3 linked regions of the Homo sapiens genome follow. The protein of the gene in region 1 purifies or fractionates together with the protein of each later gene. This does not show direct contact. Each region holds a gene or a part of one and is shown in the gene's direction. Other genes may lie near its edges.

Region 1 (3,654 bases):
CTTTGATGGAATATTGATTAGAAGGAATCAGTAACATGTCCACTCTATTTGATGCTGGTTAGACTGCCACATATGCCATTGTGACCTTGGGCAAATTATTTCTCAAAGCCTCGTTTGCTGTAGTAAGGGGTTAAAAATCATACCTACCTCAGAGTTACATGAGGATTAAATGAACTAATGCTTATAAAATGCTTCATAGAGTGCCTGGCATCTGTAAAAATTGTTAGGTTAAGAAGAGACCTAGTGGGTTGGTTACTGGTGAATATGTGGTAAGCAGATTTTTTGCAGTGGTCAGGAATAATTATCTGTGTGGAAGTACAGTCTTTGAAATGAAACAGTAATTTCCTATGGTGATCACAAGTTAAAACCACTTTTTAACAATTTCAGTCCAGTATCTATAATGTTTGAGCTTTTAGAAACTCTTGTCTTAACTTCATTCTTTTTGTTAATTTACAAAAGAGCATATATATGGGAAAACAGTTGGGATCTAGTTTCAACAGCACAGGGATAATGTAGTCTTTTTTGTTATGTTGCCAGAGGTAACTGATTATAAATGTAAAATTGTGTGCATATGTTCTAACTTCTTCTCTCTATAACCACAGTAAACTTGTTGAAAAAAGCCTATTAGTGAGTAGAATTTTTGTTGACAATGTTTAAACCTCTGCATATGGCATTAAAATGTAACCTTTATAAATCTTTGTGTGAAATATACCTGCACACATATTTTCCAGCAACATCGTGTTTTAACTTGTTAGTTGCCAACATTAAGAAATCAGGTTTCATATAAATATCCTTATTTTAGGCTAGAAAAATTAGATGATGGTGTAGCACTTGGTCCACTGGGTCCACTGGGTCTATTGTGTCTATTGCTTCTGGTGCTGTCACGCATCAGCTGCTTTGCTTAACCTGTCCCTGACGCACGCATTTTATGCTCAGTTCTAGCTTTGTTCTAGGTTCCATTGTAAGTAATCCTGTAAGGCCTGAAGCTTTGATAATCAATAACCATGTAAAAAAAAAATAAGGAAGCTAATGGTTTTGCAGCACAGACTACACACCAGGTGCTATAATTGGTACTTTACATATGTTAATAACCCTGCTTCTTTTTTGCAGCACCATCTTGGAGTAGCTGGTGTGCTTATTTTACGGATGAGAAACTGAGGCTTAAAAATTGAATAAATGGCTCAAGGGCACCCAGCTTGTGTATGGCTAAAACCCTTGTTTTTTCTGTGAGTTCCAGTTATTGCTTTTAATTGTTCGATGTTATTACTCAGTAGAAGTTGAAGTTTTTTGCAATTTGTTGGCATCTGCAGTATCTAACTTTTATAAAAGACAGGATTGCTTTCCTGACTGGGTTCGCCCATGTAGTTTTTTGTGTAAAGGTATGATTATGAAGCAGACCTGAGTACTACTTTTAGTTGTGTGATTCTTGAATCATGCTGGAACAGGGAGTACCCTTCATCTTGTTTTTCAGACTAGAGACATTTAAAGTAATGTTTCTAGCCTGATTTTTCAATATTAGAAAAATATACCAGAGGATAAAACACATCAGAATAAAATGTGGCTCTCCCCCGACCTTTAGTTTCTGCCTTTCCTGTGGTTTTGCACTTTTTGCTTTCATTTAAAGTGCAAATGGCATTCTCCAGGGTGCTTTATATGATTTAGAAAGTCAGGTAGTACTGCAGGGATTATGAAAAAAAGCAGCAGACCAGTGCCCTAGCTCCCTTCTTGACAGATTTCTGCTCCCCTGAGGCAACTACTTGTTGGAGGCCAAAAGAATGAGGGTCATGATCAACTCAGTATACCACTGGAGGTTATATGAGTAAGCAGCAAACTGTTTTTCATAAATGCAGAATGTTGGCAAACTGACAGACTGCGTATGCCACCCAGAAGGAATGCTGAAGGCAGTCATGCCCAAAGCACAGTGTTTCTTGTGATTAGGTACATCTGAAGCCTGTTAGTAACAATATGAACCTGTGATCAATTAAGCAGCTGACCAATCCTTACCTCCTTCTCCCTGCTCTTGTTACCCAATAAATATGAAGGGCTGTGGAAGCTCAGGGGCTGCCTTTGCTCACTAGAAGCAGGGAGCTCTTTTCTTCTTCCCCTGGCCCTTCCTTTAAAACAGTTCCTTTTGTTTTTTTGTTATTTCCATGTTTGTCCCTTCCTTCAGTCTCGTAATGACGGTCTCAAGTAGTAACAGTAGTAACTGTTGTAGTGAAGGTCTCAAGTAGTAACTGTGGCAATGTGCCACAAGTGGCGCCCGAACAGGGACTATCAGTGACAAACAGAGACCTGAAGAGACCTGAAGGGACCTGAGGAGGCCTACAGGGACACATAGAGATAAGTAGGGATAAATAGAGATAGAGACAGATAGGGAAAGATAGGGACTTGCACCAACTTGGAGGAACTAACAGGGACCGTAGAGACAGACAGGGACAGACAGGGATAGATAAAGACTAGCAAATACTAGCAGAGACTAGCAAAGACTAGCAGAGACCAGCAGAAGCTAGCAGAAACTTGCAGGGACAGACAGGGACAGATAGAGACAGGGTCCTATAGGGACTTGAATGAGGAAGTTCTGCTGGAACAGAAAAAACTAAAACCAACCAGACAAATGAGAAACCCCGTTACAAGTCTGCTTGACAACATAAGGAGATGAACAAACTGTGTGGGTGCCCTCAAGGTGTGTGCGACCATGGAATGGAAGACTGGAGAGATCCATGGATTCTAGCTACAGGCCTTGTTCCCCTAATACGAGCCATGAGCCAGTTGAATCTGAATGCGAAGATGGAATGAGGACCGACCGGAGTCACACTGACATCAACCCTCATGACATGGGGATAGATCAAGAAAACCACACAGGAAGCTGAGACACTGTTAGTGTCAGGGTCAGGCAAAGACCCCTGACTCCATGTTTGTGGCCATGCTGGCCATGGTTTCCTGTGCCTCCCGTTGTAAGATCAGCTGGACCACCAACTGGCAATTAAGGGCTGCACAGCCTGTAGTTGCCTTTCTCAATTAATTAAAAAACAAAAAGGGAGAAACGTTGGAGGTCGAAAGAATGAGGGTTATGATCAACTCAGTATACCACTGGAGGCTATATGAGTAAGCAACAAAATGTTTCTCATAAATGTAGAATGTTGGCAAACTGACAAACTGTGTATGCCACCCAGAAGGAATGCTGAAGGCAGTCACGCCCCAAGTGCAGTGTTTCTTGTGATTAGGTACATCTGAAGCCTGTTAGTAACAATATGAACCTGCGATCAGTTAAGCAGCTGACCAGTTGCTACCTCCTCCTCCCTGTTCTTGTTACCCAATAAATACGAAGGGCTGTGGAGCTCAGGGGGGCTGCCTTTGCTGACTAGAAGCAGGGAGCTTTTCTTCCCCTGGCCTTTCCTTTAAAACAGTTTCTTTTTTTTTTTTTTTTTTTTTTTTTATCATTTCCATGTTCGTCCCTTCGTCCCGTCTCCTAATGAGGGTCTCAAGTAGTAACAGTAGTAACTGTTGTAGTGATGGTCTCAAGTAGTAACCGTGACAGTCTGCCACAACTACTTTCACTAGTTTTGGTTTTATTTTCTGGTGTTTTGTCTCTAAATAACATGATTTTCTTGTTTCTTGATTTTTTTTTTAAAGTTTCAGAATATTTTTATGTTT
Region 2 (3,654 bases), on another chromosome or scaffold:
CTTCCAGCTAGAAAATTGTATGGCTATTCAATGTGAAATTTGGGGAGCATCTCATTTTCTGGAATTCCATGCTTGCACGTCAGCAGTTTCACTCTGCTTCTTGTGTTGTGGCAAACTTTGGCTCCCATTTTCAGTGAGCACCATCATGTTTTTGATATCCCAGCAACCAAATGAAAAAAGAATGCTCAAAGGCAGTGGGGTAGAAGAATATCTTAGCGCAGAAAAGGGCAAACTTCCTTTCTGTTCCTGAAGCCGCACAGTGTGTCATCCTCTAAATCTGACTGTTTAATGTAAAATCTAGGTGGTAAAGACAGAAGACACATTTTGCATCTTTGTCTTTTTATTTGCGTGTTCCCATGAGTCAAATGGGGTAAATACATACATAAGATTCTGAAGAGTGATTGAGAATAAAAGCATAAAATGAAGGAGGGCCCTTTTTGAATTTTGGAAAATTCTGTTTCATTCATTGAAACAGAAATGAAGCAAACTTTACAAAAATTTCTGTGATATATTAATGATATGATAATTACATCTTAAAGTTATATGGTAATATTTCTATATATATGATCAAATTTAAGTGTGAAATATTTTTAATGACTAAAATAATGACAAACTGAGTCAATTGATAGAATCAATTAAAAAGGTTCTTTTTATTCAATAAAGTGATAACTATCCTTAATATCCCACTCAAGGTTGAAGAAGAAATGAAGAAGCATGAAAGTAATAATGTGGGATTACTAGAAAACCTGAGTAATGGTGTCACTGCTGGCAATGGTGATGATGGATTAATTCCTCAAAGGAAGAGCAGAACACCTGAAAATCAGCAATTTCCTGACAACGAAAGTGAAGAGTATCACAGGTAAGCCTATGGCAACATTGAACAGGAGATAACTATGTGCTGTCAAACTAACCCTAGTTTGGGCTAATATTCATGATGAACAAATTTTATAGTTTTACTAGGATATTCAGCCTTGCCCGTTAATCAGAAAAATGAAAATCAGCGAACAATGAGTTACCATTTTTCCAGGCATTAATTTATTTGAAAAATAACCAGTATTGGCAAATGTGAGGGAAAAGGCATTTTCTTTTCTTTTTAGTGAACTTTTCTTTTAGTTTCAGGGGTACATGTGCAGGGTTATTATATAGGTAAAGTGTATCATGGAGATTTGGACTGCAGATTATTTCATCAGCCACATAATAAGCAAAACACCAAAAGTTAGTTTTTTGGTCGTCTCCCTCCCGTGACGCTCCACCTTCAAGTAGACCCTGGTGCCTGTTATTCTCCTCTTTGTGTCCATGAGTTCTCATTATTTAGTTCCCACTAATGAGTAAGAATATGTGGCATTTGATCTTCTGTTCCTGCATTAGTTTGCTTAGGATAATGGCCTCCAGCTCCATCTGTGTTGCTGCAAAAGAAATGGTTTCATTGTAAAAGACATTTCATACACTGCTGGTAAATACATTTTGAACATTAATTTAGTAGCATATTCACAAACACATGTATAACAATAAGGATATATAATATATGTAAAGGATATTTGTGTAGATGTTACATATATACTTATGTATAAGGACATTTATTACAGCATTATTATATCAAAAAGATGGATCCTTATCAATAGGAAATTATCATTATCAAAAGTAAATCATTACCAATAGGAAATAGCTCAATTTTCATACCCAGAAATTAATGTAGTATGCAACCATTTTTTACAAGTGAGGTTAGATCTAGAGTATACTGATTATTTCACAATTAAAGTGTATTTAAAGCATCAGTGATGACATCTTAAGAGTTCTTGTTAAAATTCTTGTAATATTTCCTGTGTTGCAAATGGAAGCTACATGCTATATTGATGCTGTACCTTGTTAGCAACAAGATTGCTAGTTATTAAATTTTTATGTCAGTGCCTGAGTGCTGAAATATTGGACCCTCAATCTGAATATTGCCAAGGGATTGTACATGGGGATCTGTATTTAATATAAACGTTTCAGTATATTGGGTAAAACTTTTATTAAAATGTATCAAAGGATCTTTCATCTGCTAAACCAGGAGTTGGCCAGCTTTTTCTGCAAAGAGCCAGTTAGTAAATATTTTAGGCTTTGTGGACTATATAAATTAATTTATTTTTGAGACAGGGTCTCACTCTGTTTCCCAGGCTGGAGTGCAGTTGTGTGATCATGGCTCACTGCAGTCTTGACTTTCTGAGCTCTAGTGATCCTCCCACCTCAGCCTCTCTACTAGTTGGGACCATAGGTGTGCAACATCACACCCAGCTAATTGACACTGTGGACTGTAAAGTGAATAAGCATGGCTGTGTTCCAAAATACTTGACTTACAAAAACAGGCAGTGGGCTGGATTTGGCCCAAGGTGCTAGTTTGCTGACCCTTGTGCTAAAAGGAAGGTGCTGCAAGTGAAGTGACTCTTATTTGTAAAAGTGCCCTGCGTGTGTGAAATTATCCTTCCTTTGAGAAAAGGATATATTTCAGTATTCACCTCACCATATTTTTCCACAGTGACTTCATATAATTTTAAAAATTTCATTTATAAAATAAGATTATTGTCTGCATTTCTCCCACTTTATTCCTGTTAATAGAACCCAGTATTTTGCTGTGATCAATTACTTTGTATATTTGATGAGTATCAGTTGTCCTAGAATTGGCTGATTTTATCAAGCAAGAAATACTCTCCTTGAAACTTTTAGTATTTCTTGGTCTTTATGCATAAGCATGAATAAAATGATAATCAGCTTATGTGTAATCTAGAAATGTTCAAGGCGACTTTTAGTTCTATAGTTTTAAGAATTTAACACCTCAGTCTGGCATTTTTAATGCCACATGTGTATAATTTTTATAACCTTTAAAATATATTATTGTTATATAAAATTTGAAAACTACACCTGTTATATAAAACTTGAAACTATTTGTCTATTACTTTTCCATGACTGTGGAAGAAAATTACAACATTCTCAGTCATGACTCCTAAGCATGATGTCCTTAAAAGAACTGTCCACACTCACGAACTCAAATTTTCTTTTCATTCACTCTTAATCTCACACCGGCGTCTTCAATTTCAGCAGTCCTCCAACATTGTTTTTCCTCAAGATTATCACAATTTTTTTTCTGTAAATTATGCATTTTTTCTTACACCTCATTTTATTTAATCTGTCAGCAATATTTGAGCCAGTGGAGGGCGTCTCCTCCCTAACGGCGTCTTCACTTGGCTTTCAGGACCTCACTCCCTCAAGCTTTTCCTCCTGCATTTCTAGTCCATTCATCATGGTCTGTTTTGCTTGCTCCTCCTCATCTTTCTCCTTTTGGACATTGTTGTTTCCCAGGGCTCAGTCCTCAATCTTCTTTCTCCTGACTTTTTCTTTTTCTTTTTTTGAGACGGAGTTTGACTCTGTCCCCCAGGCTGGAGTTCAGTGGTGTGATCTCAGCTCACTACAACTTCTGCCTCTTGGGTTTAAGTGATTCTCCTGCCTCAGCCTCCTGAGTAGCTGGCATTACAGGTGTGTGCCACCATGCCTGGCTAATTTTTGTATTTTTAGTAGAGACAGCATTTCCCCATGTTGGCCAGCCTGGTCTCAAACTCCTGATCTCAGGTGATCTGTCTGCCTTGGCCTCACAAAGTGTTGGGATTACAGGTGTGAGCC
Region 3 (3,654 bases), on another chromosome or scaffold:
GGTAACTCAGATACCTCCTAAAGCATTACCTCTTCAGTAATGCTTTGGATATCTTCTCTTCTTCAGACTTGTTTTGAGTTTGTATGTCTCTACATTTAGGGGTTTTGTTTTTCTTTTTTGGGACAGAGTCTGGCTCTGTCGCCTAGGCTGGAGTGCAGTGGCACAATCACAGCTTACTACAGCCTCGACCTCCTAGGCTTAAGCAGTCCTTCCACCTCAGCCTCCCAAAGGATTGGGATTACAGGCATGAGCCACTGCCTGGCCTCTAGATTTCTTTGTGGTTATCTTCCTTCTCCTCTTTGTCATCTTTTTGTTGTTCGTTTTGTCTTTTTATTTAGATCTGCTCTGCCTTTTAGATTTCTAAGTGAATATTTTTTAAAAGTTTAAATTTGAAAATTAGCAGGCTGCTCTGTATTCTTAAAGCACATTATTAGACAAGATATGACATAATTAACCATTCAATCAAAGCTTTAAAGTTATATAACACTAAGTGGGCAGAATACAAAAATGTTATGTGTAGTGTAATTATGACTGTACAAAGGAAATGATTAGAGGAAAGAACAAAAAGAAATATACCAAAATGATAAAAAGATAATCGTATTAATTGATAGTAGGTTAGTTCCTTTCAGCCCCCTATCCACCCTTTTACTTTCCAGATGTTCTGCTAATATTTTACTGAAAAAAAAAAAAAGGGGGTGCTTGAAGCTAAAATTTAAACTACATACAAGTAGCTTCATTGTGATATTTCTTTTGGTCACTTTGTTTTGATTCCCCTAAGGGCTACGTTAGTCATGATTGTCTCCTGTCACTCCTGTTTCTGTTGCTGAAAGTATATATCATTGAATTTCTCCTTCCTAGGGGTGTCTTCATTAGATACTTTCTCTCCTCTGTTGACTGTGAGCAAATACATTTGGAGCCATTGTGTATCTGTTCTTTCAGGCAAGAGCAGCTAAACTGTCTGAGGGCAGCCAACCTGCTGAGGAGGAAGAGGATCAAGAAACACCTTCCAGAAACCTAAGGGTCAGAGCAGATCGAAATTTGAAAACAGAGGAGGAAGAAGAGGAGGAGGAGGAGGAGGAAGAAGATGATGAAGAAGAGGAAGGTGATGATGAGGGACAAAAATCTAGGGAGGCACCAATCCTGAAAGAGTTTAAGGAAGAAGGGGAAGAGATACCTAGAGTAAAACCAGAGGAGATGATGGATGAGAGACCCAAAACAAGATCCCAGGAACAGGAGGTGTTAGAGAGAGGAGGGAGATTTACAAGATCCCAGGAAGAGGCTAGAAAAAGTCATCTGGCCAGACAGCAGCAGGAGAAGGAAATGAAAACAACATCTCCCCTTGAGGAGGAAGAAAGAGAAATAAAATCTTCACAAGGCTTAAAGGAAAAATCGAAGTCTCCTTCCCCTCCTCGACTGACTGAAGATCGAAAGAAGGCCTCACTTGTAGCGCTGCCAGAGCAAACTGCCAGCGAGGAGGAGACTCCTCCACCTTTACTAACAAAGGAAGCATCTTCTCCACCACCTCATCCACAGCTCCATAGCGAAGAAGAAATAGAGCCCATGGAAGGCCCAGCCCCCGCTGTCCTCATTCAGTTATCTCCTCCTAATACAGATGCTGACACCAGGGAGCTATTAGTATCTCAGCATACTGTCCAGTTGGTAGGAGGCCTGTCTCCTTTGTCAAGTCCTTCAGACACCAAAGCAGAATCTCCAGCAGAGAAAGTGCCAGAGGAGAGTGTCCTGCCTCTGGTTCAGAAAAGCACACTGGCTGACTACTCAGCCCAGAAGGATCTTGAACCTGAGTCAGACAGATCTGCTCAGCCCCTCCCTCTAAAAATTGAGGAATTAGCACTGGCCAAAGGAATCACTGAAGAATGTCTGAAACAGCCATCTTTGGAACAGAAGGAAGGCAGAAGAGCTTCTCATACCCTTCTCCCAAGCCACAGATTGAAACAGTCAGCTGATTCATCCTCTAGCCGGTCCTCCTCATCTTCCTCCTCCAGTTCTAGATCAAGATCTCGCTCTCCTGACAGTTCAGGTTCTCGGTCTCATTCACCGCTCAGATCCAAGCAGAGAGATGTAGCCCAGGCACGTACTCATGCCAACCCTCGTGGTAGACCCAAGATGGGCTCCAGATCAACATCAGAGTCCAGATCAAGGTCACGTTCACGTTCTCGTTCAGCATCAAGCAACAGCAGAAAAGTGAGTATGAGAGAATCCCGGGTGTATTAATGTTCTGTCATATTCCAGTGGTTTTCATTTCAGCCCCTGGAGAGCCTGTCATGATTTCTGAAAGGAATAGGAAAAGCCTCCTTTACTCTCCTTCACTGATTACTTTCTCCTCATTTCAGAATCGTATTTTCAATTAACTGATTCCCGAAATGGGGTTCTTTTTCATTTTGAGTCCCTTGATAGAATGTTGAATTTATGTACTCATCTCCTCCACTAGATGGAAACTTCTTGAGGATGTGGGCATGCCCTTTTACGTGTGTGTCCCAGGATCTAGCATCTAGTTAAAACTTAATAATTTGTTAAATAAGTGGTCAAGGAGACCACTAAATGGGAATAAACACAGACAAAATGGGAGTAAACACAGACAAAAAGGTCCAGAGTATAAAATTTGGTCCATGGAAACTGGAAAACTCAGCAATCTACTGAATATATACCATATACAATAATTTTCCTTGTTATGTGTTTCATTTTGTTTTAGTCTCTGAGCCCTGGAGTCTCCAGGGACAGCAGCACCAGCTATACTGAAACCAAAGATCCCTCTTCTGGTCAGGAGGTTGCAACTCCACCAGTGCCACAACTGCAGGTCTGTGAGCCAAAGGAGAGGACTTCCACCTCCTCATCCTCTGTCCAAGCAAGGCGTCTGAGTCAGCCTGAATCAGCTGAAAAGCATGTGACCCAGAGGTTACAGCCTGAGCGGGTAGGCTATTGTGACCCCTCCCTACACAGAGATGGAGGATTAAGCAAGATCTTCCCTCTTGTCTTTGCTATAAAACTAAAAAGTTAAGTCTGGACAAGGTTCAGTAGAAATGTGGTGGATACCTGTTAATCCTGCTTAACTCATTTCCAGCTCCCTGGTTCGTAGAAGTTCTACATGAGGCTGAGCAGCAGGGTTATCTCCAGGGCCCCCAGGGTCAATTCTTCCTCATAACTCCTCCTTTTATCTGCCAAAAGGAAGTCAGCCTTTTCTCAGTTCTCTCAAAAAAGAATTCTGTCAGAACAAGGATCACTGAGGAAAAGGAAAAAAATTAAAAATTCTGATAAAATGATTACTGGCATAAATATTCTTGAAGTACCTATTTTTAAGCCATGTTCCTTTCCTTATTCTAAAATGAAATAACAGATACAGAGGGCCGTGTGTGGAGCTGGTACTGTGTATGTCCTGCCCTGCCTTTTTCAGGCTCCAGGTAGAAGAAAAGGAACCAAGCAGATCTAAATGTTTTGCTCTGTTCGTTTTTGCTATCTCCTGACAGGGGAGCCCAAAGAAGTGTGAAGCTGAAGAGGCAGAGCCACCAGCTGCCACACAGCCCCAAACCTCAGAGACTCAGACCTCTCATCTGCCAGAATCAGAAAGAATTCATCACACTGTGTAAGTGATATATCTCGACCGGGGTATAACAGGGAACTATGAGTGTGCGATAGTTC

The links.
Region 2: the proteins of EPB41L2 (region 1) and POTEI purify together in Homo sapiens (affinity purification with mass spectrometry; 2 studies listed by BioGRID and IntAct, with this or other methods). This does not show direct contact.
Region 3: the proteins of EPB41L2 (region 1) and ACIN1 purify together in Homo sapiens (affinity purification with mass spectrometry; 2 studies listed by BioGRID and IntAct, with this or other methods). This does not show direct contact.

The regions. Positions count from the first base shown.
Region 1 is NC_000006.12:131,053,217-131,056,870, reverse strand, and holds part of EPB41L2 (band 4.1-like protein 2), read left to right. Parts: intron 1-3,654. UniProt on the Homo sapiens protein: Required for dynein-dynactin complex and NUMA1 recruitment at the mitotic cell cortex during anaphase.
Region 2 is NC_000002.12:130,485,237-130,488,890, reverse strand, and holds part of POTEI (POTE ankyrin domain family member I), read left to right. Parts: intron 1-692; coding exon 693-859; intron 860-3,654.
Region 3 is NC_000014.9:23,078,095-23,081,748, reverse strand, and holds part of ACIN1 (apoptotic chromatin condensation inducer in the nucleus), read left to right. Parts: coding exon 1-1; exon of another isoform or gene 2-939; coding exon 940-2,202; exon of another isoform or gene 2,203-2,289; intron 2,290-2,710; coding exon 2,711-2,929; intron 2,930-3,051; exon of another isoform or gene 3,052-3,482; coding exon 3,483-3,598; intron 3,599-3,654.